Regions from separate parts of the Homo sapiens genome. Here all the other regions are linked to region 2. The links come from fine-mapping of genetic effects on gene expression. A gene starts in region 2. Each other region holds a variant in brackets. All regions are shown on one strand. Distances are between the middles of the regions.

What was found. PIP is the estimated chance that this variant, and not a neighbour inherited with it, causes the effect.
Region 1: its variant is fine-mapped to the expression of PRDM1 in cerebellum (GTEx, PIP above 0.99).
Region 3: its variant is fine-mapped to the expression of PRDM1 in tibial nerve (GTEx, PIP 0.95).

Annotation. Positions count from the first base shown.
Region 1 is chr6:105,812,661-105,820,844 of GRCh38, forward strand. No RefSeq gene overlaps it. Among named protein-coding and RNA genes, the nearest start is that of LINC02836, 180 kb to the left of the region's middle. The variant G/A (reference allele first, on the strand shown) is at 4,770.
Region 2 is chr6:106,081,305-106,089,488 of GRCh38, forward strand. PRDM1 (PR/SET domain 1) reads left to right here and starts at 5,032. Exons shown (of 7, transcript NM_001198.4): 1 at 5,032-5,291; 2 at 6,897-7,145. The coding sequence starts at 5,250. RefSeq lists enhancers at 3,413-3,482, 4,660-5,379.
Region 3 is chr6:105,869,215-105,877,398 of GRCh38, forward strand. All of the region lies in intron 2 of LOC105377923 (a long non-coding RNA gene), which reads right to left. Among named protein-coding and RNA genes, the nearest start is that of PRDM1, 210 kb to the right of the region's middle. RefSeq lists an enhancer at 610-1,111. The variant C/T (reference allele first, on the strand shown) is at 3,171.

The sequences.
Region 1 (8,184 bases), 270 kb before region 2:
TTAATATTAACATATACACCCTGGAATACTATGTAGCCATAAAAAGGAATTAGATCATGTCCTTTGTAGGGACACGGATGGAGCTGGAAGCCATTATCATTAGTAAATTAATGCAGGAACAGAAAACCAAATACCACATGTTCTCACTTATAGGTGGGAGCTGAACAATGAGAACACATGGACACAGGGAGAGGAACAACACACATGGGGTGTGGGGTTGAGGGAGGGTGAGCTTCAGGAAAAATAGCTAATGCATGTTGGGCTTAATACCTAGGCGATGGGTTGATGGGTGCAGCAAACCACCATGGCGCACATTGACCTATGTAACAAACCTGCACATCCTGCACATGGACCCCCAAAATAAAAATATAAATAAAAATTTTTAAAAAATGTTACAGAACTAAAATGAATAACATAGCCCATGTGCGAAAAGTGGCGTTGGGTATGAGGAGCCAAGACATTTGTATTATGTTAGCAAGCTTATTTTGGGCAAGGACAGTCAGATCAAAGTTAATGGGTTCTTCCTCAGAACCCTACTTGGCATCCTGGTATCTGCTTGTGATAAGTCAACCATACAGTCAAACTCTTCAACTGTAGGTACAGGGAGAAGCAGGAATAGAAAAAGACCTATTAAATTATCCTTTTCCTATAGAAACATAAAACACATGTGTCCATGTTTAATATTAAAAACATGGCTATTAAAGTAATAGAAAAATACTTCCTAAAGTTTAGGGGCTTGAGATATAATTCAGAGTAAATTTTTGGAGATCTATAAAAAATCACAAGTAAACCATCTTGCTCTCTCTGACCAACCACTACTGAACTGAAGTCTGGTTTTTCTTTTTTTGATTTAAGAAAGTTCTTTCCAGTCACTGCTATTTCCTTCCGCTCTCATCCAGAGCGTCACAATTCCTTTGGACCTCAAGAACACCTTGGACCTGCCAGTCCTCCCCGGCTCTGCTGCCTCTCCTGGGCCTCCCTGGCAGAAAGGAAAATCTCTTGCCTTTCATGGGGCTTAGCTGAACCCCATTCCTGCTTACTCCCTCAGCAGAAGGAGAAAAACAACAACCACAACAAACCACAAGATTGTAGCCATGATGTGCATTCTTCCTGGTGGCATCCTTCTTATCAGGGAAAAAAAAAAAACTTCTCTTTTTCTGCAGTCCATCTCTCCAGTTTTGCAGAAGCCAACTCTGCCTTTAAGGCTGGAGTTCTTGGTATGAAGCTGAGAACGAGTCCACCTGGAGTAGCAGGAACGAGCCATCTAGTGGGGCCAGTATAACCTGGAAATAGCTGTTGGTGGCACTCTGCCCCTCCCTATTGTATGTGTTTTCATCGCATTTATCTTGCCTTCCCTAGTCCCATTTCTTTTTCTCCTCCTCTGCCTAGGCCTCCACTCCCTAATGGGATTGAGTGATTCAGTTACTTCAGTTAATTTCAATTCAACTCATATTACTAGGTAGGAGAATCTCTGTGAAAGCACTTTGTAACAGGTGAAGTGTTTTACAAATATTAGCTTTAACTAAGCACTAATTATCATATCTTATCTGGGGTGTAGGTAGGAGAGATAAGTGCAAAAACGATAAAAAGCCTTGGTCCTGGCATTCCAGGTTCCTGACATCTAATAGAGGAGATACAAGACGCTTAAGAAAAATATGATGATAGTGTTCTTCCAAACCTACTGTAGAGGAGGGAGTATTTAAACGGACCTAGAAAGATGTGTGAGACTTCTCCTGACAGAAACAGTGAGGACGTTGGAAAAAACACAAGATACATGATGCATCTCTTGCTCAGGGAGTCACAATAGAAGTGGATCCCTTCCAAAAAGAAAGGAATCCCATTAGACCAGTGATCATCCTGAGACAGAAACGATGAATGAGGACCCTGGTCATTTAACCATATCTTCAATCCTCCACAACGTTAAATGTAAGAATTAAATGTCCAAGTTACATCTCTGTTTTGGAAGATGACAAGTTACACCTGACATACTTGGATAAATATGACAAAAATTCACTTGTGCACAGAAAGCTGCCAAGTCCCCTTCAGCGTGGTGAGGACTTGAAGAGATGAAGTTTCTTTGAGCTGTACAGAATAGTCTGGAAGTAGGGGTAGGAGGTAGCATTCTTTTCCAGCCAAAGGTACAAACACCCTCTTAAAAAGAAAGGTGCATTTAGAAGGAATGCGGTCCCCATACATCACCTGTGATTAGCTTTTGGGCAACTTTCATGGACAGGAAGGCTTCCATTCAGGAGCAGACAATTCGCTCAATTACCTTGAGGGTCTTAGGTCATCCCCTGAGAATGGGAACAATGTCCCTCAGACCTGCTAAGGAAACTCAATCAACCAACTCAGGTGTGCAATGAAGCGTTTGAAGAGTCATTGAAGGTGCTATTTACTCTCATTGGGTTTTTTGGGTTTTTTTCTTTTTTGCATGGAGGTAGATAACAAGTCTTTTACTAGAACCTTCATCTGGGAGAGTTTTTGTTTTTCTGTTTGTGGCTTTTACCAGTTCTGTATTCAAAGACCAACACAAAACCCCTGTTTACTTTCTGTCCTGGAAAATGCTATCAGCTCTGTGTGGAGCACTTCCTAGAAAACCCTCCCCTCCCCACCTCCCTAGCATGACTCTTCAGTTTGGCTTCAGGAGGATGTTTACCTCTCACACTTACCATTGAGGTTCAAATCTGGCCAACCTTTTACCAGCCTTGAACACATAAAGCCACAGTCTTCCAAGAGGGGCAGTGGGCTCTCCTGGGTGCATTTCAATGATTTCCACCTGCTAACTTTTGCATTTGGAAAATTGCAGAGAACCAGATTATCATGCCATTTGAGACAATTTTGTCAGCTGTGATTTTCCTAAAGTAGGAATCCATATTCAAATATGAGAGCAAGAGGAAATTTTAGCCTAGACATTAAAGAAAAAAAATGAAAAGGGGTAAATAATCTTAAAATTGCAGCAAAGTTTTAGCCTTTCAAAGGGAAAGTGAGGACAAAACTATATCTAATCAAATTCTCACATTGTAAAGAATCTTCTGATTATTCTTACTTTTTTCTCCTCTTTTACATGCATCCAAAATCACTGCTTCTTTGGTGAAGTTTAAAAACGGAATATTTCTGACATATGCTCTCATTGAGTGATTAAAAATGGAAGCCAGAGGGGGAAAATACTCTCTAATTTGCACTCAAAGCAAAACTAGCCACCAAGGTACAGGAAAGAATAATGAGTGAAATAAATCTCTATAAGAAGTAACAGAAAGGGAATGAAAGATGGGCACTTTAAAAACTTCTCTAGATCAGCAATTCAGTGGGTTTAGCTTGCTAGATTTGCAAACACAGAACCAACAAGACAGCAGGATCAGATGGCATGGGCAAGTGTTTTGGTGCCAGAAAATCTTGCAGAGAGAGCATGTTTGTCATCATTTTCAGGGAGTGAGGGGAGGGCAGAGAGAAAAAAGACAAACCCTTCTGGTATCCACCTACACAGAAAATTTTTGTACTTCTTACCATGGAAATATTAACTTAGAGGAAGGGAACAGACCCTTGGGGACTTCCATCCTAAAACCTTTCTGAAAGGGTAATGCCCAGAAGCATATCCAAAAAGGAAGAGACTGGCAAATGAATTTGTGCAGAAACACCAGCAGAATCAGGACACCAGATTTTCCTGCACAAGCTGCACGTAACTCACCAGGGAGTCAGACTGCTCACTCTCTCGCCTTGTGCAACACAGCCATCCTGGCCTCTCCCAGTCCAGGACCCACTTGTGCAGTCCTTGGCAGAGCCCACGATCTACTGAAACACCACAGCACTGTGTCTATTCCTACTCAAAACACACAAACTCCCTGCAGCATCCTTCAGCGTCCACCTTAGTGACCATACTCAAAATCCTCTTCGAATCCCCTGAGGACAGGAACCAGGCACTAGATCCACTTGGGGACCCAGATTATTCTGAGTTCAAATCCCTTCACCATAGAATAAATCTCCAAATTCCTCTTTCTAATGTATCATGAACCAGCGCCAATTGGGTGGGTAGCTTTGGAAGACTGCTAATAAACTTTCCCCACTGGCAGTATCTCCCTCTTCCTTCTTCCTTCAAAGAGGGGAATTCATAAAAGCATTTGCATAAAATTATATGGAAAATATTGAATTCAGGATCCATTCCTTTTCCATTGCAAACACTACTACATTCACAGTAGGCTGACGACTGTTCGTACTCTTAGAGCATTCTGCCAGTATAGTGATGTATCTTCTTCAGGCCCCAGGTGCCCACATGCTCCAAGTTTAAAGTAACGTGAGAGACCAGAAAAGAAGCCCCAAAACATGTACTCCTTCCCCATTTCCAGGAACGCTCATGTGCATGGGACTGTACAGTCATTTAAATGTTCACTTACACATGGAGATGAACAATTTTTGCTATTGTAGCAAAATTTCACAATGCTTTGAAAACAGATTTGTTCTAAAATGAAAAGCACTAAAGAAATACAAAGAAAAATATTTTTTCCTGTTGAGGACTTAGGTGAGAATGTTTCAAGTCCTGAGTTGTGAGACCAGCTTTGCCTCTCACTAGCTATCACAGAAGTTTTTCTAGATACAAAGATTTCATCTGAAACACGAAGCGGGTGAACTAACAGATTTTGAAGGCTCCTTTCACAACTAAAAGTTCATGACCAATTTTCTTCATGTAAATACTCACGTATCCACAGCCACTCAAACTACCCTCTCTATTTCCCAGCCCACTGCAGCCACGGCCGTGGCGAGTACCCACGCCCAGA[G/A]GGGCTCCCAGCCGCTGAGCACTGGGACTTGCTCCAAAATCACATTAAGCTGGCTCTTGTATTTTTAGTTGCCTGCCTCTCTTCTTCCCCCTGTTAGTACAGATTACCCGGAGTTAACGCTCTAGTTGATTCAGCCAAAAATCACCTGGCAGATGTACAGTGTGGGTGGTTTGCCACACATATAACAATAGGACATTAAAACGTCAAACAGCCCTTGAAACTATCAAGATGAGTGGCCTCCACATAAGAAGATCCAGTAGAATTTAGGGAAAATATTGGATCACTTGTTTCTTTATTTTAACATATTTCTTTTAAACTTCTGTTTCAGGGGTGTGTTTTGTACTGTACATAATATATTAGATCTTTACAGATGCATATTTATAAATTAGTATACATCCATTAAGCATACATGCTAAATTTTGTTGTTGTTGTTACTTATAGGAGTACTGGTCCATGGCCTCTTAGAAACTGGGCCACACGGGTGGGCGGCGGGTGAGGAAGCAGTACTGCCTGGGCTCTGCCTCCTATCAGATCAGCAGCGGCATTAGATTCTCATAGGAGCGCAAACCCTATTGTGAACTACGCATATGAGGGATCCACATTGCACACTCCTTATGAGAATCTAACTAACGCCTGATGATCTGAGGTGGAACGGTTTCATTCCCTAAATCACCCCCCTCAACCTCCCCTGTGGAAAAACTCTTCTTCCAGGAAACCCGTCCCTGGTGCCAAAAAGGTTGGGGACTGCTGATTTAAGATGCTGGGCCAAGTTCTGTCCACCACCTGTTTCTGTAAATGAAGTTTTATTGGGACATAGCTAAGCCCATTCATTTACATAGTATCTTTGGCTATTTTGATACTACAATGGCAGAGTTCAGTTGCTGCATCAGAGAGGGTATGGCCCACAAATCCTAAAATATTTTCTGTCTGGCCATGTATAGAAAAAATTCACTGACCCTTGATCTAGACTAACCCCATTTTGATGGGTTGAAGGAATTGAAGCCCAGAGTTGTTGAGTACATTACCAAAGCAGACTGGAGCCAGGGCTCTTCTTCAAAGCATTCTTTAGCCAATGCTTTGTACACACAATCACACTGTCATCCTCGTACCTCATGTTCTTTCAGATCTTTTGACTTCCAAACTAAGATACTACTAGACTAAATTTTATTTCACCCACAAATGGCTGCTTTTACCTGAGCTCACCTCTAGGCCTTCCCCCATCCCTCATTCTCCCAGCTGGGTTGCTGCAGCTTCCATAGTGGGTAGCCTGCCCCTGCCAAAAAGTGCTGTACATATTACTCATCTGCTGTTTGTACCAAACAGAAGATCACCTGGGTTTCTTCCTTTTTTTCACACACTATAATTACTATGCTGTATTTCTCAAAACACTTAGAAACTCAGCGACCAATAACATGTTAACTTATTTGGAATATCCCACAGAGGTATTAGTACTGGTAACATAATGAAAATCAGTCAATGACTACCTCTTTGACCATATAAACTTTATATTAGAGTCAATAAGCAGTTGCTGGCACAGGAGGTCTTCCATCATGGGGAACTAATTTGGGACTGAGTTTCATGTTAGAATTAGTCAGGGTAGCAGTTTCCCAAGTGTTGTCCCATAGCAGCAGCAGCAGAAGCATCCCCTGGGAACTTGTTAGAAATGCAGAGTCTCAGGCCCTACCCCCAAACTACTGAATCAGAAACTCTGGGGGTGGGCCACAGGTATCTGAGTTTTAACAAGTCCTCCCGTTGATTCTTAGGCTTGCTAAAGCTTAGAAAGTATTGATGGGAGGGATTGAGCATCACTACTAAGGACCAGGTGCTAGAAGGATAGGACATTTTCTACCACAATCCCTCTTCCCTAAAGTCTCCATTCCTGCCAACATTCATGGCATGTTTCTATTTGCTGGAGCTCCAGGAAGAGATACCACTTCCTTGCCTTCCATGGAGCAGTAAATATAAGAGTGACCTTTGGGCACTGAATGGAAAAAGAAATCCCAGCTTGCTCAGTGACCATTGTTCCTTCCCTCAATTATGATCATTTTACACTGCAAAACTCACCGCAAACTAATTGTATTTCTAAACGTTTATCAAGGACCTACTAGGTACAAAACTCTGTGTATACATGAATCCTGTACATCTATCTCAGCGAATACTGAACCAGTACTACGGAGTATACAATCAAATGAAGGAGATACATTTTCAGCTTTAAAAAAATCACATGCAGACAAATACTATGAAAATCCAAATCGAGAGCTTTGAAGGAAAGAAACAAGTTGCTACACGGATGTGTCATGAAAAAAACTTGACCAAATGGGAGAGCTGGGGATGCTCCCCTAGGGAACTGATATTTCAGCCGATCTGTCTGCAGACAAGATTTTTAAAAAGGAGAAAGCATTGTCCACTTAGAGAAATAAGCATGTGCAAAAGCCCTGTAGCAGAAGGATAATAATATTTTAAAGAACTGAAAGCAGACCCGTGGAGCTGAAGCTCAGAATGAGGATGGAATGGCATAAGAGGTGGTAGGGGAAGTAAGATGCACCCACATGAAAGATTTTGTTTATTGTTCCAACAGTGAGATCACTCTGGCTGCTGTGTGGGAAACTGGAAGGAAGCTAAAATGAAGTGACCATTGTAGTTTTCCAGGCCAGACATGAAGGTAGGTTAGGTTAGGGGAAGGTGGAGAGAAGTAAATAGGTTTTGGAAGATACTTAAGCAATAGCAACATAGAAGGTTTGGTGACATGGAGTATGAGAAGGTCAAGGATGATTGCTTAGTGTTTGGTGTGGGAAACTCGATAACTGCTCACAGATATAGAAAGCAGAGGAGCAGGTAGGGTGAGGTTAAGGTAGGTGTGGGAAATCTGTGAGGCCTGTTTTGAATGGGCATGTTTGGGGTTCATTTCATATTTACAACTGGAAACTTTCGGTAAGCAATAGCAGAGTTGTTCAGGAGTGTAGAGAGAGATCTGCGCTGGACATACAAAATTGATAATCATAGGCATATAGATAATAATTGAAGCTATAGGTTCAGATAAAATTACCCATGGAGAATGTATAGAGTGAGAAGAGTGTCTGAGACAAACTCTGTGGGAAATACACATCGTCAGATATATGACGGAGATTGTCCTCTCAAAGAAGAATGAAGAGAAAGACTAGAGAGGTTGAGAGAAATCAAAAGAGCAGGCGTTACAAAAAGCAATTGAAGAAAATGTTGCCAGAAGGAAAACATGTTCAAGATCTCTACTCCCAGTATGGAACTTCAGGAAGTGTTGCCATTTTGTCTCAGATGTGGCAGTAAACAGGAACCTTGGCAAGGAATATGCTGAAACTAGAAAAATTGTCAGCATTTCTTCAGGGGAAAAAAAAGATTCTGCCCTGTTAAACCTTATCACTCAATTTTGGAGATTCCA
Region 2 (8,184 bases):
TACCTTAGGTCCAGTAAGTGCTTAGGATCCATTACAGAACCCTGAGCTTGGCTGGAAATCTGAGAACCAAGTTCTGATTTTGCTCCCTGAGCTGCAGCCCTGCCTGTGGGCTGGCATTTCCCAGGTTCACAGTTCTATGTTAAGATCCAGTTACCAAAAAAGAGTCTGGGAGAGATGCCCTTTCTGCTTCCTGACCTCTGGTCCTCAGTTTCCTCAGCAGGAAAATGAAGTGTAGAAGGGGATATATGGTCTTCGACTTAGATTGGATACTAAATCCCCTTTGGAGCAGAATGGGAGTTGGGGGCTGGGGGTGGTCAAATGATTTCACTATTAACCTTTATGATTCTGTCTCTTCTATCCTAACTTACCTTGGCGTGAAGAAAGTCAAGCCTCTACAGTCTTGTTCTTCCCTTAGAAAGGATGAGAAGAAATCGTCAGTCCCATTTTAAATAAAATCACCTGTGTCCTTTGGTTAATATTCTGTGATTTCAGGGAAGCACACGGTGGCAGGTACAACTGTAGGGTCCCTTTTCCTCTTCCAAGGGGACTGCTCCTCCCTGCACTGGGTCTTCTGCTGCTGTTCCTGCTCATCCTCCATAGAAGCCTTTCACCTTCATTTTTAAGCCAACTGGTCCTCCCTAATCTTATTCTTGGCGACCTTCCCTTTATTTCCACCTTGAGTCCTCCCCTCTTCCAGAATGGCTTCTCCTCCCACTGAAAGGTGAGAGAAGCAAACATTTGACCCACAGTCTTGCTCTCTCATTTGTGTGGAAGCTACTCTTCCGGTTCTCCAAATAAAGACAAGAGATGAGTTTCAGAGTGGACACCTTTCCTATTGCTCTTTTTCTCCCTTGTTAACAGTTCAGGTTTTGCCTTCTGTTAGTTTAATTTTAGGATTATTCCTTTTTTCCCACCAGCTGTAAGGTTAGGAAGTGTCTTCTGAGTTCTGAAATAATCTTCCTTCTCCTGTTCTTTCCCACAGACTTCTCAGAAATTAAAATTCTTCTGTCTGAATATTCACTATGATAAAAATATAATTAGAAGGGAAAGCAAATTTTGGAAACCCCAAACCTTGGTTTCCCCACAAGTCATCTGGAAATGATTAGTATTGCTATTATCATTTATTAAGTTGGTAGATGCTGAACTAAAGGAATAGTTTAAAAAATAATTTTAAAATCATATATAAATGATTAGATGAGAATACAACTGTCTTTCTGAAGGGAGGGCTAAAAAAGATATTAATACTTAGATGTAATGATACAGGTGGTTCTATAAATACTCTGAGACCTTGGACATCCTGTGGGTTTTATAAAGTCCTCTGGAGAACACTTACATCTTCATTCCTAGGGTGGGAAGGGAGCTCTACTTGTGTTCTTGAATTTACTTAATTTTTGTTTCCCTTATGTAGGAAGTCAAAACACTGACCTCATTCCAAAACATCCAACAGCCCCTGAAGGTCACCGTCCCAATGTTTAGGCCCTGAATATGTTTGTCAAAAGTTTTTGGGAGGTGAGCTGTGTCATGAGAAGGAAGCTTGTGCTATTTTTAAATTGATTCAACTCATCATCGAAACATATCGTACACATATCACACCAATGACACACACAGGCTGCATTGTAACATAGCATGTGTCATACATATATTCTCTCTCACTCATACACACATACTCGCTCTTCTTGTCCGGCTTTTAAAAAGGAAGGCAGCCAGAAGGCCAAGCCCAGTGATTTGAGTTGAAAAGGCTGTTAAAGTTTAAAAACCAAGTGTCCCTCTAGTTCTCAGCCTGGCTTTGAGACATGTGGGAGGGCTTCAAAGCCTCAGTGCCCCTCTCTCAGGCTCAGGCTTACAGTTGGTCCCCAAATGTTTACCAGCATGAAGATGCCTAACTTACAGGAAGCGGGAAATGGGTGTGGGGGGTGAGGGTGGGTGGGTGGTAGGGAGTAGGAAGAAGAGGGTGGGGGGGTTATTCTCTTGATGTGGTTAGCCTGTCATTGACCTTGTTTGGGTATGGCAGGAGTTGAATGAGAAAATGAAAACATGTTTCATCTTGGGTACATTTCATCCCTTTTTTTTACCTTAGGAAAAAAAAGTTCCTTTCGAAAAAAAAAATTTTTTTTCCCCAAGTGGAGTTCAGGTCTCCAGATTTGGTGCTCAATTTCCCTTCATTCTACAATAGTCCTTTCCCTATAGAGTCATCTGGCCACCAACATTGCAATTCCCAATCCACCCAGGAACTGGGAGAGGAAAAAAACTGGCCCAGTAGCTGAAACCGAATTAAAATTGGCTGATGGAACTGTTGTGATGATGCCATCCACGGGAATAGATGAGAATTTCTGAGAACAGAACTATTTGGCTCATTCATGATTTGCTGCCATTGTGAACACTTTTAATGTGAGAGCTCTGCCTGAGAAATGCTGATTAATAAAGATAACTGAGGTTCTTTTCGGTGTTCTAACTTGGGGGGAAATAATATAGTGACTAAAAATGCACCAAGTTATTACTTAGAAACAAACCCTTTGAGACATAAGATTCCAGACAGTGGCAGCCTCTGATAGCTCTCTCTGCACAGCTGTACTGCTGCCAGGGTCTCCCAGCTTTAGTCAGCAGTAAAAAGGTGCACTGCTCAGGCCCTCTGGGAGGACCGAGTGAAGTTCAGAGGTCAGTCCCTTTTATTCCCCCTTAATGGTTTTGTGCTGGACAATACCTAAATATTACAATATGGACATGTTTTTTCCTATTATGGAGCAAGCTTCCTTTCTTTTATTTCTTCTTCCTTTTTGGTAGCTTTCATTTTAAATGATGATATCCATCATTGACTACTATAATCATAGTCAAAAGTTGGTTTGGAGGTTTTTTTTTTCCCAATCACTTTGAGACAAGAAGCAAACATGTGAAGGACTTTACATTCCAACACTCTGTGTCTGAAAATTTACTTTCCTTAAAGTTCTACCCGTGGCCTTGTCCAGCTCAGCTGGGACACCTGGAACTAATTTTAGGGTTGCCTGGCTAAGCCCCACACTGGTATTTGAAGTTTGCGTCCTCCCTAGACTCAAGCCCATTTCACCACCTCTGAAGGTGAGTGCAGGCTGATATTAATTAACAGTGAGTTGATTCACTGGCATCTTCCAGTCATTAAAGCAAATATTTGGCTTAAAATAGCCTTCTTCCCACCTCAAATATCAAACTTTTTGCCTATTCCCTTACTCTATCATGGTTGACTCACCAGCAGTTGCATGATGGTGTATGTGGCCTAAGAACAGAGTTTGATTCTAAAAGGGAAGTGAAATACTCTTTAACATCTGCAAGTGAGACTGTTTGAACAGCAGGCCAGCCTTCAGTATGACTACATTGTTTTTCTGTCCATTGTGGTGCTGACTCAGCATCAGTTAATAAACCCTCTTGAGCAGGCTGGATTTCTCTTGTTTAATTATCAGCTTGGAGCTTTCTGAGGACTCTTAGGAATTGTTCATTCAGTTTTCCACCCCCAGCAGATCTGCCTTCTAAAAGTCCTGCTTCCTCTTGGTGCTAGCGTCCCCTCTGGCATAACATGCAATCACAGGTGGGCCACGCAGCAAGCAGCGAGTGTGTGCTAATCATGTCCCCTAGTGGGAATTTAATTGTTCTGTACTGAGAGAGAGATTGCAGCAAGACTTTAGACACCATTTCCTGGCAAATAATCTTTTGCCTCTCCCCCTCTCCCCTAAAAAAAATTCTAGAAAAGTTTTCTAAAAGTGAGAAAAGAAATTTTAAAGATAAACAGACATATTTTTTAGGATTGAGTTGGGCTTTTGTTTTGCTTTGTTTCATTTCTTCCTGTAAACAAATACTCAGATGTCCATTTCATTGTATGACTAAGTTGGTATCATTAGGTTGGAACTGGGTGTGTGTATGTGGGTGTGTGTGTGGGTGGATGTGTGTGCACACGTGTATTTAAAATGTTAGAAAAGACATTGCAGGTCGAAGGAGAAATGATTTTAAAAAAACCTACCTATGGTAAGGCAAGCAGGAAAAATGGAAGACCTGGATTTCAATGATCTAAATAATAATTGAAATGGGGTGTTTGCTATAAACATTGTTTCTCTGAATTAAAGGATTCCTTGCTGAAGGCACAAGACCATTGAAGGAAGTAAAGCATCTGGTTTGTTTTGTAATGAGAAGCAGGAATGCAAGGTCCACGCTCTTAATAATAAACAAACAGGACATTGTATGCCATCATCACAGGATGTCCTTCCTTCAACAGAGGACTGACTGGGCTGGAGGAAAAGCTGGCCGGGGCTCAGAATAAGCCCCACTAATTACTGCCTCCGACCGCTTTCCACTTGCAGTGATCAGTTCAATATTCCTCTGAACTGTGAAACGACTAATGCTCTACATTTTACTTACACTCCTGGGAAGTCAGCCTGTGGGTTCTGGGAGGAGAGGAAAGGAAAACAAACAATCTGTAGAATTATAACTTTTGCCTATTTCCCTATTTACTAAATAGTTAAAAGAGGAAAGTTAGTTCTGCCAAGTTTGAACGTTAGCAGGAGAAACGGAATGTTACAACTTTTGGGGCGGGGGGCGGGGAAACGTGCGTTACATACACAACAGCTTGAGGACCAGACAGCTCCACTGTATTACACTAGCTGCAAAAACAATTTAACTTGCTCTTTTGAAGTAAGATTTGTGTCTTTTGTACCTGGGGATTTGAGCTGAGAAATCAGAAACTGTGTAGGTAAATTTTAAGTTTCCTTAATTTAAGGAACGTGCGCCCCCTAATTCTGCCGCGCCAGGAAGGAGGGCGATCTGGAGTGTTTAGAATACAATAGAGCCCAAGTAAGCGTTGAGGTTAAGTGCCTTCAAAGGGAAGTAAGAAGATTCCAAGTCAATGTTGAAATACACATGCGAAGAGAGGAAGCTCTCGGCGGCTGTGCTAGCAATCTGGGGGAAAGCCCTGGGCTCGGCCAGGTGGTGTTGGCCACGTTGGCCACGCCCCCACTTCGCGCAGCCGAGTGGCTAAGGAAATCTTAAGCAGGGAGGGGAAGCCAGACGGTTAACACAGACAAAGTGCTGCCGTGACACTCGGCCCTCCAGTGTTGCGGAGAGGCAAGAGCAGCGACCGCGGCACCTGTCCGCCCGGAGCTGGGACGCGGGCGCCCGGGCGGCCGGACGAAGCGAGGAGGGACCGCCGAGGTGCGCGTCTGTGCGGCTCAGCCTGGCGGGGGACGCGGGGAGAATGTGGACTGGGTAGAGATGAACGAGACTTTTCTCAGATGTTGGATATTTGCTTGGAAAAACGTGTGGGTACGACCTTGGTAAGGAACTTGAATTTTTTTTTTTTAATTCTGAAATTGATCTGAAAACTTTATTTTCTTTTCCTTTATTGTTATTATTATTAATTTTTTTTGGCTAATGTCGCAGTAGAAACATGCTTCTGCTTTAGTGCACTTAGTGCTGTCAAACATTTGTGAGACTTTCCTTATGAATCATTAACCCTTTCAGTTCTAGACATAATTGCCAATTCATTGAAATTTCAGTAGTGGTTCCAGCTCACACTCGTCAAACTATTCCGGGTTGGCTGAAGTTTTCTATTTTATTTTATTTTTAACATGTGTTTGGCGTCATGACTCTACATGTTGGAACTAAATAAAAATAAGCAGGTTTGCTTAAATCATAACTGAGGGAAAAACAACTTTGCATCCAACTTTTTTTTTTTTAAGAGCATCCTATTTAGAGAAGTGGAAGAATGTAAAAACCTCCTTGAAGGACTTCCACAGAATGTTATGTTTACATTTGAACAAACACACATTCTTACATGGAAATGATACCCATATTCCTCATTTTTATCAAACATGTCTATATGAGAAAACCCTTACAGAAGTTGTTTACCTTTTTTTGCCTTTGGAAAACAGTTTTTTTCTGAGTGTGAGGGAGGATTTTGGGGGAATATCCTCATCAATGTACAAGTGGAAGCAGAGCTTGTCCTCCAAGTCTTCTAAATTTGTTATAACTTTAGTTACAGTAAACTGTAGTACATCAGTGACTTCTGGGAATTCATACACTTTCAGATTTAAATGGAAAGTGCTATTTGTAGCTGAGGACTCCTAAAGGAATTCTCTCCAGGGAATTTTATTAAACGGTTTTATGTTTTGTTTTTGCCTTTTCAATTTGGTATGAGATGCTTGCAAGTCAGAAGACACTGCAGGCTGTTTTCCCCTTCACCCATTTTTCCTCCTCTTTTCCTGTGGTCCAAGTGATTTCTAAGAGGCCGTAGCTCAGTGATGCTGGCAGGATGCAACCCTTTTCAGTCTTCCATGTGAGAGGATGAAAGAGAGCTCGCAGCAGAGGGAGGAGGCAGTTGTTTTGAAAGTTGTTTTGCGTTGGGAGCTGGTGGGAAAGTTCGGTCTTCCCCATTTGGAAAAGGCAGGCTGGGTTCCGCTCCTGCACCACACGCGCTTTCCATTTTTAGCTTCATTCAGAGGCAGACAGAGCTCCTTCCTCTTCCTCTCCTTGTTTGTGACACTTTTCTGAGGCAGCTTTTCCACAGTGCCGAGGGTCTGGCGGCCATGACCCCAGGCATTCTGGGACACTGGACTGTGTGCCCAGAACATTTTTCTGCCATGAGAGGTAAAGCCAGGGATTGTTCAGAGGTGATTCTTTTTTTTTTTTTCCTTTTCCCCACAGTGAGGTTGCCACATTCTTTTTTTTTTTTTTTTTTTTAACTAAGAGTAGCATTTAAAAACCTTGCTTCTTTTCAAGGCAGTTTACTTTATACGGCTTCTTGGCTCTTTCTCAACTGTACCAAGCACTCTGCATCTGCTTTTAAAGTCTTCAGACTACTGTATTAGTCATAGCCTCTCAGAAGGAGCCACAGGAACGGCGGGACAATGGGGATTAAAGGCCTTTCCTTTCTCTTCCAGGCTGCCCCCAAGTGTAACTCCAGCACTGTGAGGTTTCAGGGATTGGCAGAGGGGACCAAGGGGACCATGAAAATGGACATGGAGGATGCGGATATGACTCTGTGGACAGAGGCTGAGTTTGAAGAGAAGTGTACATACATTGTGAACGACCACCCCTGGGATTCTGGTGCTGATGGCGGTACTTCGGTTCAGGCGGAGGCATCCTTACCAAGGAATCTGCTTTTCAAGTATGCCACCAACAGTGAAGAGGTAAGCCTCTGGTTTATTGACAAGAAGATTGGGGACCTGGTGCCAAATCTCCCTACTTGCCCTTGAGGCCTTGTATATCTCTGAAAACCTCTGAGAATCTGTAAGTATCAGTAAATAATTGATTGCTCTATTCAATTCTTGCATTGCTTTCTCTTTCCCTAAACCATTTCCTTCTCATTTCTTCCAGCCTTCAACTGTTCCTCACTAATTAGTAAACAGTTAAATATTTTGGCAAATTGGCATGTCTTAGAAAAGCAACTTGCAGCATAGGGTGGGTGAAATTGTCAGTGAACTTCAAGAAAGCTCTGGGCCCACTGGCCCTAGTGTCCCTGTTGTACAATATCTCTTAAGGGAGAAAACTTTTTCTTGGAAAAAAAAGTTTTAATATTTCTTTTGTCTGTCTTTGGTAATTAGTTGGCTTTACTCTTTTTAACAAGCCAGCTTTATTAGCTGGGTTTCTAAAACTATCCTCAAAACTTTGACGTGTTTATGAAGTGAAGTGATGGTATAAGCCGAGAAAGGGGGTCATGTAAAAGTGTCCTCTGTCTGGATGACTTCAGAGCTAACCACTGTTTATCTGCAGCAGCTCCTTTGCTGGGGCTGGGCTGGCAGGCCAATTCCTTACTGGCCTCTGAAGTGGGTACACTCTTTGTTGTTTCAAAGGGGATGAAAACCCAAACTTGGAATGAGCAACTGATTTGTGTTTACCTTTAATATAAAGATTATAGCTAGGCGTGATGTTTAGCTGTGAAATAACTTGCAGAACCACCTCTTGTTTTCAGAATTTGGCTTACTGTAGTTGCACTTACTAGTCTACTACTGGGTTGAGTTGAATGAAAGGACCCCTCAGCAGACTTCCCATACCACCATTAGCACAGAGCACTGTCAATTCTATTACTTCCTTCAGAAAGTAGGGAAAGGGGATGGTTGGCCGTAGAAATCCAGAATTTGCTACTGGGACTATTCCTTACAGCCGTGTCAAATCACTTTCCCCCTTCCCTAAGGAACAGTATTTGAAGGAATCCGGGAGACTAGGAAA
Region 3 (8,184 bases), 210 kb before region 2:
CAAGGCATGTCATCTTAGTCAGAAATGCCCCAGGGGAGAACTCAGGGGACACACAGGCAAGGCAAGCAGGAGAAAGGGCTGTGAACACAGCCAAGTGGCTACCTGAGAGCATCAGAGATTAGAGTAAAAAGGGGTGGAGGAAGCTCTAGGTCAGGATGGGACAGAAGGACCAGAAAGGAAAGTGCTTGGGAGACCTTAAGTATGTGGGAAGAACTTTGTCTTAAAAAGAGTCCTTCACAAAGGTAGTGTTTACCCCTGATTCTTTTCTTCTCCTCAGCCTCTTCCGTGTTAGTGGTTTTGTTGTGCTGTGCATTCAAGAATACCAAGGTTTGAGTTGTAATTTGTTAGTATAAATTCTTAAGGCCAGAGTGACCTTTTTTTAGACTAGAACACTGTTGCACTTTTTCACATTCTTCTGCTTATGTAACAAGGACAAGCATACAGCTAAATGGCATTTGCGGGCCAACACTAAATTCATTCATTTACTCGACTCAGTACATTGACTGAGTACTGATTCTGTGGTAGCCATTAGGATACAGTAAAGAACAGAAGTAGCTCAGTCCCTGCCCACGTGCAGCTTTCTACAGAGTAGTAATCTAGGGAATAGCCAACATTGCCAGGCCATGCTAAAGGTGTAAAAGTTCCTCTCCACTCTGACACTGCACTTATTTTTCCAATAAAAATAATAAAATAAATGTCAATGTACTCATAAATCGATAGCACCAGAGGTTATTTTGATGTTCTCTGGGACCTTCGTATTCAAAGAGTAGCTCACATTCCAGCACCTGCAGCATCACCGGCAGCTTCTCAGAAATGCAGAGTCCAGGTCCCGCCTCAGACCTGCTGAGTCAGAACCTGCATTGTTACCCAACTGACCCTTATGCACATCAACATTTGAAAAGCCCTTTTCTCTTAACATGTTTTAAGAGAAATGGCTGCCTTTTCACCCAAGAGGATAAATCTGCAAATATTTTATATGGTTATTTGGAAACTATCATTTAGATCTGGTTATAGTTTCTCTGGATGTGCACTATCTCAATGGATCTTGGGCCAGCCAAGAAAAGTGTGTCTGTTTAATAGTCTAAAAATAAATTTTCAAGTTCCCTTTAGAACTTCTGCATTTCTCATACTTAGTTTTTAACTTTTACTTCCAAATGGTCTACTGAAGGAAAAGAAAAGTCTTGATTGCTTCGACTTTTCTCAAAAAAATTATGAAACTTTTAACCTTGGAACTCACTGATTTAGAATATTTATTAAGATTTCTAAAAATAATAAAAAATTTGATTATGTACCAATAGAGCCTCACAGTTGAAATCTTTAAAAATTAAGAATGTTAACTATCACAGATGTTTTCTGCCAATTACAGTAAGGATATGTATTCTCTATTGTCAACTACAAAGATAACCTAGAGAATTAATGTTTTATATTTATATATGTACATCTGCATGTCTGGGTGTGTGGGTGAAAGGAGAGAGAGAGAGAGGGAAACTTTGCAAAACAATGTTAAATAAAACTATTTCAAGACCTCCTTGTTGAACACTCAAACAACAAGGAAAGTCAGAATTGTTTGGAAAACACTTTATCAGTTCTAATCCCTTCACATTCTCTATTCCACTCTCCTGCCTCAGAGCTTTTCCTCTACAGTTTTAATCGCCTACAGTGCTTTTTCTTCTCCTTACAAACTTTCTTCATCGCCAATTATCCTGGGTGTCTTTTACGTCTTTCTTTCCTGGACTTCTACTACTGACACTCCCCTACGGCATCACACTATTAACTGACACTTCAATATGCTTTATATTTTTTACTGCTAAGATTTTAAGCTCTGTGAGGCAGAACTTAAACTATAGATATATAAGAAAATTCCAAGCACATAATAGCTACTCAATAAATAATCATCAGTTGATTAGTCAACTATATAAAACTATACTTGAATTGAATGAACAAGGGTAAGAAAGCCTTCATGTTACTTAATTTAAATGAAGCTGAATATAATTAGAATTAATCAGATTGGCAATAGACACCTGGCCTAAGATCAAGAGATCTGGGGGTTTCACAGTATTTGGTTACTCTTTTTTTGTTCAGTTTCCCCTTCCAGTTCGCTAAAAAACAAACAAAAAAAAATTATAAAAGGTTCTTTTCAGAATGTTTCTGTACCCACAAATTTTATCAGTATTAGTAACAACCCGATGAGCACAATCAGATGGGAGCTATAAATAAAAGGAACAGTCTAATAAGAATTCACAGGCACGTGTCTATCATCTAAGAAGACATAGCTCAACTTGAAACCCTGTCTACACATGACTCCATGGCTGACCCCAAAAAGCCCAAAATTAATTTAAAAATTTCCCATCCTCTTTCCTTTTTGATATTTTATAAATATGATGCTAAATCTTTAAAATCCACTAAAAGTCCCATCTCTTCCATGAATCTTTCCTCTACGGAAAATCACCACTCCTCTCGTCTGTAAACTGCAATTAAACTGAGATTTCAAACCACCTCAAAGGGTATTCGTTCTCATAAATGCTTTGTGTTCTTATCTTATCTCTCCAGCTAGATTTAAAACCTTTGATATATCTATACAAGCCTAGGTACACAGACACACAGAGAAATTTGCTAATCAAGCCGAACAATTTTAGTTACAGTTCAAGAAAGATGATATTTGCTCAAGTGTAGTCGGATAGGAAGTTTTAGCACTGAATTAAAGTCCTAAATAAGAAAGGTAGAAGATTAGGAAATGCTGAATGCAAATAATGAATTGTTTTGTATCTCAAAAATGTTTGGGTCCATAGATTTTTCTGAAACTCATGGGACATCAATTTTAAATGCATATGCTTATGAACGTGACATCTTCTGGGTTGAAGCATCAGCTCATAAGAAGGCACATGGTCTCTACTTATAGACTAGACTCAGAGAGTCTAATAAATTCAATTCGGAGTTATTCTTTTCCAAAATCAAATGCCAAATCTTTTAACACTGGCCAGTCCTCATAAAACAGTCTATCAAACATAATGGAAAATTTTTTAAAGTTCCTGGAATAAATGTCACTCCGACTATATTTTTTTCTTATCCAATGGGAAAACAGCACAAGACTCAATTTTATTAGAAAACTGTAGCATTCCAAATTTCATCATAGTCAACTCATTCTTAGCACCCAGACCCAGTCCCATGCA[C/T]GTCACCCTACCACCCTCACTCCCCAGTTCCCAGTGATAGGCAAAAAAAAAAAAAGAAAAAAAAAAAGAACTTCACCCAAGTTCTGCTGACGTCAATAGGGTGTTTGCGTGCAAAGTCTGGTGGATGGATTGAAGACAGTGTGTTGTAACTTTTCTTAAGGCCCCAATTATTCAAAGAAACCTCACTTCTAAAGGGAAGTATCAAAAATCCAGAACTCTCTTTCAAGGAAAAAGCAGCAAGTAAATCTCAAAAGAATTAATAATGGATAATGCCCTAAACCTCATAGTAATAACAAACGGTGATCATACATCCTTAGGGAAAAAAATGCAAAGGAAAAAAGCATAACTAAGAAGAGAATCATAAGTATCCACAATTGCTTATATTTGAGGCTTTTTGTTTTTTGTTTCTTAAACATTTTCAGTTATGTCAAATACCATCTGCAAATGTAAGTTCTCAGAGTTTTCTGACTATGGTACTGAACATTCAGATACTGTAAAGAGCCATTTGCTCAAGATAATAATTAATATTTATTCCAAAATAATAAACGTGAGATGCTGGACTTCGTGCTACACAGTGGGGAACAAAGAGTACCTAAAAAAAAAAAACAACTAAATTTGAAGAGAAATGTTCTTGCTCTCAAACATTTACAATCGAGTTAGAATAACAGGTATAACATATTCTGCCTTGTTTTCACATACATTTGCTACATGTCTGATACATATATGAAATAATGGAATAAAGCTTTAAACAGCAATCAATCAATAAAAGCAATGAAGTTCCATGTGTACTGGATGGGTGTGGCCAATCCAAGTGCATCCTAAGAAGTGTGAGCAGAGATAAGTAGGTATCTGGGGCAAGGGTGATTTGCCCCCAAGGAAACATTTTTTTGGCCAATTCTTAAGACTGTTTATTTCCTGCACTATACTTCATCACAAGACGGCAGACTGGAAAAATATCTCCACGACTTGGAACTGTTCTTGTTTACAAAGCTGTGTCAACTATAAGTTCAAAATAAGGGCATACTTCTTTTTCAATTTCTATATGAAAAGAAATCCTTTCATTCCAGGAAAGATAGCATTACCCAAATGAATCACAAAATTGTTCCTTTGACACACTTCAGATTTGTGGTTGTTAGAAACAACTCTCAAATAGAAAACACTGTCTAATTGTCAGTAGCTTGTTCCTCTGAGTCTTTTATTAGGGTTGGTACAGACCAGCTGACAAGTTATTTCAATTCATTTCAGTTCTATAAACCATCTGTAAAGAGCTGTTCTCAGGGCTGAAATGATACAAAAAAGGAAGAACAAAGAGTTGCTACCCCATCTCTCCGGTGGACTCACTCGCACAGAATGATGTTAATAACCCCACAGCAGCAGGGACAGAAATACAGCCAGTCTGGTTATCTTAACCTTTATAGCTTGCTTTTTTTCATGCGCAAAAATTCCATTAGTGGAGCTGAGCATTTTATTTAGCATTTGAATTTTACTACTTTTGTCTTAAAGGGCAAACCCAACTACATAGGCATGACTTTTTTTCTTTGAAGTCCCAGAGCACTCTACCTAGAACTCTCATAAGACACTTACGTTCTCTACCCAACCTGACAGTTGTTTCAGGTAAGTGGTATGTTTGCTTGTTCAGATGCCTCCCGCTGAGGAAGTAACTCAGTAAAGAGTTAACCACTCACTGCCTGGCACAGTGAATGAATGAATCAATGGAGAATAGATTCTATGCTCTCTGGGGGCAGAGTGCATATCTAATTATTCATTGTATGCCCCAAAATACACAACAGGGTTTCAGTAAATAGGTGTTATATCACTGAACTGAATCACCATATCTTAGAGTCAGTGCAGCCATATGCAGATATCCCTTCTGCAGCATCTATTATGGGTGACCACTCAACATCTCTTGGAATGCTTCCAGTGACAGTGCTCAGTACTTCTGCTGCAATTTCAACCCTTAGGTTAACATGACAAACAAAAAAGAATTAATCATATCTTCATCTAGATATAGTGCTGTTCAAGCAAATTAAAATATATTAATTATTCTTGCCTTCCTTTTTTTTTTTTTTTTTGAGATAGGGTCTTGCTCTGTTGCCCAGGCTGGAGTGCAGTAGTGCAATCTCAGCTCATTACAACCTCTGCCTCCTGGGTTCAAGTGATTTTCCTGCCTCAGCCTCCCAAGTAGCTGGGATTACAGGTGCGTGCCAGCATACCCGGCTAATTTCTTGTATTTTTAGTAGAGACAGGGTTTCACCATGTTGGCCAGGCTGGTCTTGAACTTCTAACCTCAAGTGATTTGCCCGCCTTGGCCTCCCAAAGTGCTGGGATTACAGGTGTGAGCCACTGTGCCTAGCCTATCCTTGCCTTTCTAAAGATTGCATTTTCTAGCAGAGTATCATTGCTGAGCCCAACTCAATGTCCCCAGGTGTCTGTTTGTAAGAGTTGATCACCTGTGACAGTGCGCTTCACAACACAGATTTGACTTCCACCGCAGACTGTCCAAAATTTCAATTGTCGGTACCCCAGAATCACCTACGAGCCTTGTAAAAATACGAATGCCAGACTCTGCTTCTGACTCACTGCATCAAAGTATCTAGGGGTGAGGTCTGGGTATATAATTTATCTAACTAGGGTTGAAAAATGCTGAGATAAGGACATTTTTGCTTTAAAGCTCAAGAAAGAGAGACATTTTTGTGCCAGGAATCCTTCAGTCTTGAGTGAGAGAATCAAGGGCATGGAGGGGAAGAAAGATGTGGAGACATTTCCTTGTCCAGCTCCACAGACTTTTTGGGCTTCTACGAGGGAAGCAATCAGTGAGAGTTGAGAGGGCCCATGAATCTGTAGGCCATACAGCTCCAGGGCTAGAAGGACAGCAAGCATGGTGATGCAGCCCAGATGGTCAGGTTCTCAGGGAGGGCAACAACAGCCACAGCCACCAGACACCCTCAAGCAACAAGAAGAGCCAGGGTGGGAGAATCAGAACGGGCCAGAGGTCACAAGGTGGCTGTGGTTAATAGACCGACTTGAGCACATGGCAGACACCCTGCCTGGGGACTTCCAGACTAATTCAAGAGGAGGACTCTACAGGGAGATTCATTCACTCATTAGAACACTACAGGGAGATTCATTCATTCATTTAATACATACTTATTGAGCACCTACTCTCAGCCAGGCTCTCTTAGAAGTTCCAAGATTACAGGAGATAGGAATAAATGTAGAATCTCACTTAGGAAACCTGAGTTCTTAGTGCTCATGTGACCCACAAGGCTCCAACTAGCAAAGTCCTGAGGCATTAGGAATAGAACTTGAATACATAACGTGGAATTAGGTATACACGAAGAGATAAGGGTGAGTATCTCCTTTTCTGACTTTTACTTGAAGAAAAAAAAATCACTTTTTGAAGACAGAGAAAGATATACATATAGATAGAGATAGATACAAACAAAAAAGATAGATAGACCTTAATGTGTGTAGGTGTATATACACATATGTGTGTGTGTGTGTATATATGGTTGGTGCAAAATTAATTGCAGTTTTGCCATTCAAAGTAATGGCAAAGGCTGTGCAATTACTTTTGCACCAACCTAATATATACACCTACACACATTTTTCAAGGCATAATCCCATGCATGCACTGAGAGTTTCTTGGGATACCAGGCGTCTCTTATCCACCAAGTTAAACTTGTCTCATCCCACTTTGCCCTAGAGCCCTCAGAAGGATTGCAAGCAGAGTGCAGCCTCCCCTTTGTTCTGGCTGCAGCTGTCTCTGCCTGGATGAGCTCTCTAAGAGCCCAGGGTAACGGTCTTGACCGTGACTACTTACCGAGAGGCTATGAAAGGATAAACAGGCAGCCACATGAACGCAATGCTCTTTAATTACGTGGTCCCACCATGGAAGGAAGGCCGGCAGACAGGCAGACACATTCCAATTACACTAATACACCTTGTAAACATCAAATATTTTTATTCTGAGATTAAAGACAGCCTGTATCCTCACAACACTCCTGAGACCGTGCGTCTCAGGGCTGCCAGTGCTGCTGGTGAAACAGGATTTCCTTTGATTAAAATAGACTTTCATATAAATAACAGCCTCAAGTCTAGAGGTGGTCAAATGTAACTTCCACTGCAGACTGTCCACAATCTCAATTGTAGTTCTTAAAAATCTTTCAGAAAGGACAGGGTTCATGTTCTCAGAGGAAACTGATTAACCTAGCCTCGTTTTCTTCCAGTTTTTACCCTACCTATCCAGAGTCGGCAGTCAATTGGTTCCCTTGGTTAACGCTTGGTGGCAGTGGGCCTTGAGGCTTAAATCTGGTTGTTGTGTGGGTCACCTGCCTTCACTTGGTGTCAGCTCTTCCTGAGTCACAGACCGAGATGTTACTAACCCAGCCAAATTCTTTTATCCAGGCCAGCGGGGAACCAGTGACCTGAACGTGCAAGGTGAGTTGTCTGGGTACCTCGCCACTGGTTGTAAGCTAATCTGTAGAGAAAAAGTGATGAAATTCAGCAAAACCATTCATATGCCTTTCTGATAGTGAGCCTTTTCATGTGAGTCATCATCATAGGCAAAAAAGTCTTTGAAGCTCCTGATCCTATATCACAAATAAATGTTAGAACTAATAAATAAACTCCCAAAGAAATAGGTTCTCTATTTGAACCAATAAAACAACTTGTATAAGATGAAAACTTCTGGTCTACTCCATTCAGGCTGCTGTAACAAAATACCATAGACTGGGTGGCTTAGAAACCATAGAAATGTATTTCTTACAGTTCTGGAGACTGGGGGGTAAAAGATCAAGACGCCAGCAGATTCAGTGTCTGGTGAGAGCCCACTTTCTGCCTCATAGATGTTGCCTTTTCATTGTATCCTCACGTGGTAGAAGGGGTGAGTCTCTCTCTTGGGTTTCTTTCATAAGGGCACTAATCCCATTCATGAGGCCTGCACTCCTATGTCCTAATCACCTCCCAAAGGCCCTAACTCCTAATACCATCACCTTGGGATTAAGAGTTCAAC